2 separate regions of the Homo sapiens genome follow, and region 1 is linked to region 2. The links come from fine-mapping of genetic effects on gene expression. Tissue or cell type: whole blood. Region 2 holds a variant in brackets; the other region holds the start of a gene. All regions are shown on one strand. Distances are between the middles of the regions.

The links. PIP is the estimated chance that this variant, and not a neighbour inherited with it, causes the effect.
Region 1: it holds the start of PBX1, and the variant in region 2 is fine-mapped to the expression of PBX1 in whole blood (TOPMed, PIP above 0.99).

What each region holds. Positions count from the first base shown.
Region 1 is chr1:164,557,442-164,560,205 of GRCh38, reverse strand. PBX1 (PBX homeobox 1) reads right to left here and starts at 1,022. Exons shown (of 9, transcript NM_002585.4): 1 at 193-1,022. The coding sequence starts at 383. RefSeq lists an enhancer at 941-1,440.
Region 2 is chr1:164,773,364-164,776,127 of GRCh38, reverse strand. All of the region lies in intron 2 of PBX1 (PBX homeobox 1), which reads right to left. It overlaps PBX1-AS1 (PBX1 antisense RNA 1), which reads left to right and starts at 1,487. Exons shown (of 4, transcript NR_038072.1): 1 at 1,487-1,699. The variant G/A (reference allele first, on the strand shown) is at 1,186.

The DNA.
Region 1 (2,764 bases), 220 kb after region 2:
GGGCGATTACACTTTCGATAACAACGCTCCTTCAAATTTTACTCCTCCGCCATGTAGTTGCTTGTCAAAATGAGAAAAGAAATAACATTTTTCAAAAAAAGCGCTGTGGTGATTCGGTTCCCATTGTTTCCCCCTGCAAGAGGAAGAAAAACAAAAAACCCCAAGAAAGGAAAAGAAAAGCCTCCATCTCACCTGGCCTGCGCCTCATCCAAACTCTGGTCTGTGATGGTCATAATTTGCTGTAAAATGTCTCCAATGTCCTGCTTCCTCCCGCCCTCCCCCTCGGTCCCTCCGGCCCCATCCTGCAAGTGCTGGGACAGGCCGGGGTGTCCGGCCATCCCGACCCCAGCATGGGAATGCATCAGCCTGGGCTGCTCGTCCATCTCCAAAGGCTACGGCAGCCCCCGGCTCTTCCTCTTCTGCTCCTCGGCTCGGCTCCTGGGAAGCACCAAGGCTTTTTATCCTTCAAGCTTGTCTTCAAATCCTTTTCAGGATAAACAGGGAAGGGGGAAAAAAGAAGACCAAAAGAAAAAAAAAATCCCTTTGCCTCTTTAGAGGATGGTGGGAGGATGAGGAGGGGGAGGGGGAGGGGGCGTGAAGGGGTTGCGGGGTGAGGGTGGGGATAAGGGCTGGTGGGGAAGGGTGTTGACTCCAAAAAGCAAGAAAAATAAACCACCTTCCCACTTGGCGAAAAGAAATCAGAGCTGGCTTTAGGTTTTTCAGTCCGGTCTCCTTTGCAAGGCAGAAATGGGCTCCCGGCGCTTAAATCTGTGGCTTAATCCTTTTGCAAATATGCATTGATCGGGAGAAAGGAGAGGAAGGCAGGGGGATTGCAATGCAAACTTTCCCCCCCCACCCCCCGCTGCCCCCCACCCCCACTCCGGGCCAGAGTGATCTCAAAGGGGGTGGGCTGTTGCAAAAGCCAGATCTCCCCCAGCCGCGGCGGCAGGCAAAGCACAGGCTCTCTCCTCCTCCGTGTCTCTGCAAACTCCAGCAGCCCCGTCAGCCTCCTGCTTTTGTTTAGCTCAGGCTCAGGACTCCAGAAACATATACAGAAAAACCACAGCCTGAGAGGAGGAGGAGGAGGAGGAGAAGAAGGAGGAGGAGGACGAGAAGGAGGAGAGGGGAGGGGGCAAAGGGAAGGGGAGGGGGCGGGGAAGCCGGGAGGCTGGGGAGAGGAGGAGGGAGGAGGGCGCCTGGAGCTCCTCCCCGCTTCCCTGATTGGCCACCAGATAAAGGACCGGCCCCCTCCTCCCCTACTTTCCTCACGGCGCCTCCTCTCCAGCCTCCTTCAGCTCCTCCTCGCCCGGCGCCCTGTCAATCAGAGTTCAGAGGTGGGCCGGGAAGGAGGCCGAGCTAATAGCAAGTCTCCAGTCCTTAAAGGTGCAATGGTACTGTAGTTCCAGCTCACTTAGTTTCCACTTTCCCTGCTCGCCTTACTTAGGTTGCGTCCTTGAGGAAAATGTGGCTCCACTTAAATGCAAACATATAAAATTAACACGAAAGAACACAGACGGTGTGCGTCTTCCCGCCCACCCCTGCTTTTCTTTTGCTGTGGCATTGTCATTTAAAACTTGATTCTTTTAAATGCTTAGACCTCAGGGAAACTGCTGAGAGCACAAGTTTGTCAGCACGACGTAGTTATGAAACACAATCGAGCTGTTAATATAATTAATAAAGATCTCTAATAAGTGGCAGATGTAATAATAGATACATTTAAAAAAACAATTCTAGCACAGTAAAGGTGAAAAGAATACCAAACTGTGTCATTTTTGCTGCATGAAAACTAAATTATGGACTATGAAACTGAAAAATGCTCAAGAAAAAGAAAGATTAATAAATAAGTTCACCAAATGAAACTAATTCAACATTTCTCTCTCTTCCCCCGGGGGAAATTAGTTATTTGGCTTAAATACCTAATAAAGAAATGCATTATCACAGTCTAGTTCTAGTTTTTAATATAGTCTAATAAGCATTATTAACTGGGAAGAGAAGTGAACTGACATTTATTGAATGCCTACTATGCACCAAGTAATTTGCATGAGTTATTTTATTTAATCCCCAAGACATCTTTGTGAGTTATGGATTATTATTTCCATTTTACAGAGAGGGAACTCAGAAAGGTTAAATAATTTGTCCAAGGTCCACAGTTATTAAGTGTCAAAGCTGGAATTTAAACCCAAGTGTGACTCCCTCCAAAGGCCTAGTATTTCCACTGCACAATCTGCTTCAGTCTAACAGAAATGTGTGAATAGTGTTAAAAATTAGTTATGTGTCTATTGCCTGTCCAGTTTGAAAGGAAACTTGAGGTGCTTAAAAGGGTACATATTCCAACAAGACAACTCCAATTGAAAATGGGTAGGAAAAAATAAAAAATAAATACAATGGGATCAAGAAAAAAGCCAACAAAAGTCATAACTAAGGTCCAGTATCATAGCTCCAGACAGACACAAATTTGCTTCCAATCTTTTCATTGGGCAAAGTGAGAGGGAAAAATCTGACTGTGTACACAGTCACAATGAATATAAGATAAAATAGCAGGCCAATTACTTAGGAAATGTCCAGAATATTTTGTAATATAAAATATTCTATTGTGTAGCCAGCCCTCTTCCTGGATGGCAGTATAGCAAAGGAAATGCAAAGCGCAGTGTAACCAATCTGCAAGCGCAGTGTAACCAATCTGCAAAATGGAAAGCAGCCTTGCCAGGTGCTTCGAGATCCTCAAATAAAATGTTATTCTTCTCACCAATCATTACGCAAAACA
Region 2 (2,764 bases):
TCAAAGACCCATTCCTTGATTGGTTACTATGGGCCAGACAGGTAACGGTCACAGAAATGAAAGACAAAGTGCCTGCCCTAAAGGAAATGATAGTGTCATAGAGAAAAGCTGACAAACCGATTATTAGTATACAGAGATGTGGAGGAAGTTTACTCAACAAATGGCCTCAATTGTGATATCATCACAATTAAGCCTTTTGACATTCATCCTTATTTCCTTACTCCAGTGTAGACTGCCACATATTCAAATATACAAACAGACCCCAATGTATGCCCATGCAGCAGGTGACAAGGGCCAGGTGCTTGTGTTTACCTGTACTTGTTTCAGCACTCACCCCATCCTTACACCATTAAACCGAATAGCCATTTGTAGGGCTTAAACACTTAAAAGCCAGTATTAAGCAGAACCTCAGCTCTGCATCTGGGGACAAAATACCCCGCAAAAGGGATGGGAATCCTGAGAGTGCAGCCAGCATAAATCACGCCAACATCACTGGGCAGACGGTTATAACAAAATGCACTTCCTCCTCCATGAAGAGCAAGGGCTTCGTAGACTGCACCCAAGCCACAAGCTCCACACCAGACCAGAGATGGGCTGGTAGGCAGAGGCAAAGGTGGTTTCAAGGCTTCTGTGGCTTTGAAGAAAACATCTTTGAGTGTGAGAAAGCATTCACATGGTCTCTGCGGGCATCCTTTCCCTGTGGTCGGGCACTCTTCAATCTGTGGCTGTTGATTTCACCACACACTCAACTTGTCCCGCCATAGTCCTCCCTAACGTAGCCCTAAAGACAAAAAGACCACTAAGATCGCCTTGCAAACCTAATCAGAATGTGGCAAGTCTGGGGCAGTGATCTTTCACTCTATGATCTTTGACAGTGGGTCCTAGGGGCAAAAGTCTCAGACTCTTAAAATCTTATCTGGCTCCTTCCGTTAACAGAGAAAAGTAAATATTTAGCCACCAGCACAGAGGTTGAGAGAAAAACAGCTGTAATCAACACTCCACTTCTCACCCCTCCCAGATCAGAGGTGAAGCCTGACACCCCTGACCCCTAAGCGAGCTTCCTCGGTGTAGCGAAGCACAGAGCCCAGCCAGCAATAATTCCACATATAAACAACTCTTGCTAGGCATGAAGCACACACCAGACAGTAATCAGCTTATCTAACAGAACAGGCCTCTTTTCCGAAC[G/A]CAGAGGAGGATTAGCAGGCTTGAATTACAGCCGTGAAGTGTAATCAAGCCCTGGTGGACCCTGGCAAAGGCTACTGTATATTCCTGCTGGGCCATGGGTTGTTGGCACGATGTGGTGTACCTACAGGGGACGAACAGAAAATGCTTGAGATGGTAATTACACTGGGAGACAGCAGTTGAGAAATGGGGAAGAGCAAGTGTGGAGGGGAGAGAAATCAGATTCCAGCTGATGCCCACGTCCTCCACATCTTCCAGTCTTTGGAAAATCTTGAAGTTACTGGATTTGAACAGATTTTTCTGGCTTATTAAAAATAGAATATTGCCTACATCACATAAAGGGCAAACTCCGCCCTCACTTGGTCACAGAAGCAATTACAGCATTGTCTGTAGTACACAGCCCACGGCCTCTAACCACAGTGATGGGCACACTTGGTGATGTGCAACTCAGTGGGGCCTACAGGGTCCCAGCTGACATAGACATCACAAAGGAATTTGAACCAGGACTCAGAAATAGGTAGACAATTTTAAGAATTGTATCCTCACCTTGAAGATGCTAAAACCAACCAGATGGGGGTTTCCTTTTATACCTCCCAGATGGAGACTTCTCATTTCGAAAACTTGAGAGTCCAGCATTTAATGATATGCCTACAAAAAAGTCTCTACTTAGTGAATTCCATGAAAAAAGGCACTATGACTTTTGAATTTTTTGAAGCTTCCCAAAGAACCCTGTGCCTTGCTGAAAAAGAAAATTGTCTTATGTTAGGTTTATTTTTTTTTTATTCTGTCATTTATTTGTGAAGAACTTTCCTTAACATCCTATTCATAGCACCCCACTATGTAAAACAATTCAACAACTCATTAGCTTTCCCTTAAAGTAATCTTAGCCCCCTCTGAAGTTCCTCATCTATCTTGCCATCTATCCTTTTCTCTTACTCATATTTCTTAAAGATCAAAGAATTCAAAGTGGATATCACGTTAAAAAATTGCCTTCACTAACATGGGGAGTCGTAGAAAAATAGCTTCCTGGCTTTCTTAAGTTCTGGGCCTCTTGAGGCAGATCCACTGCGTTAACACTGCAAACACGCTTCCTTCTCTTCAGTCAAATCTCTCCCCAGCTAACTCTTCTAATACCAGCTTTCCAATGCCTTCCCAACACCCAATCCTTTCCAGTACACTTGGAGAGAGCAGAGACTCCAGGTGACATCATGAATCCCCTCTAGAGATGATCCATGGGTGAAGAGAGAGTCATGGCCCATGCAGTGTGGGGTACGGTTGAGGGCTCTGAAATGTGCCACAGGCCGCTCGTCCTACCAGTCCCAACCTATTCCTCACTAGCTTATCCCTTAAGACACATGTCCCCAAAACCACTCTCCACATTTAATCACAGCATAGAAGCCTGAAAGCAGTGATCTTTCACGCCATAGTCTTTGACAGGGAACTCTTAAGGCCAAAACTGCCAGACTCTCAAACAACTGATAAGTGCATAAACCTAATTTTCAAAACAATTTAATTGACTACAGTCTGATTGCTGGTACACATGAAGATATACCGTGTGTCAGCAGTGTTTGAAATAGGAATG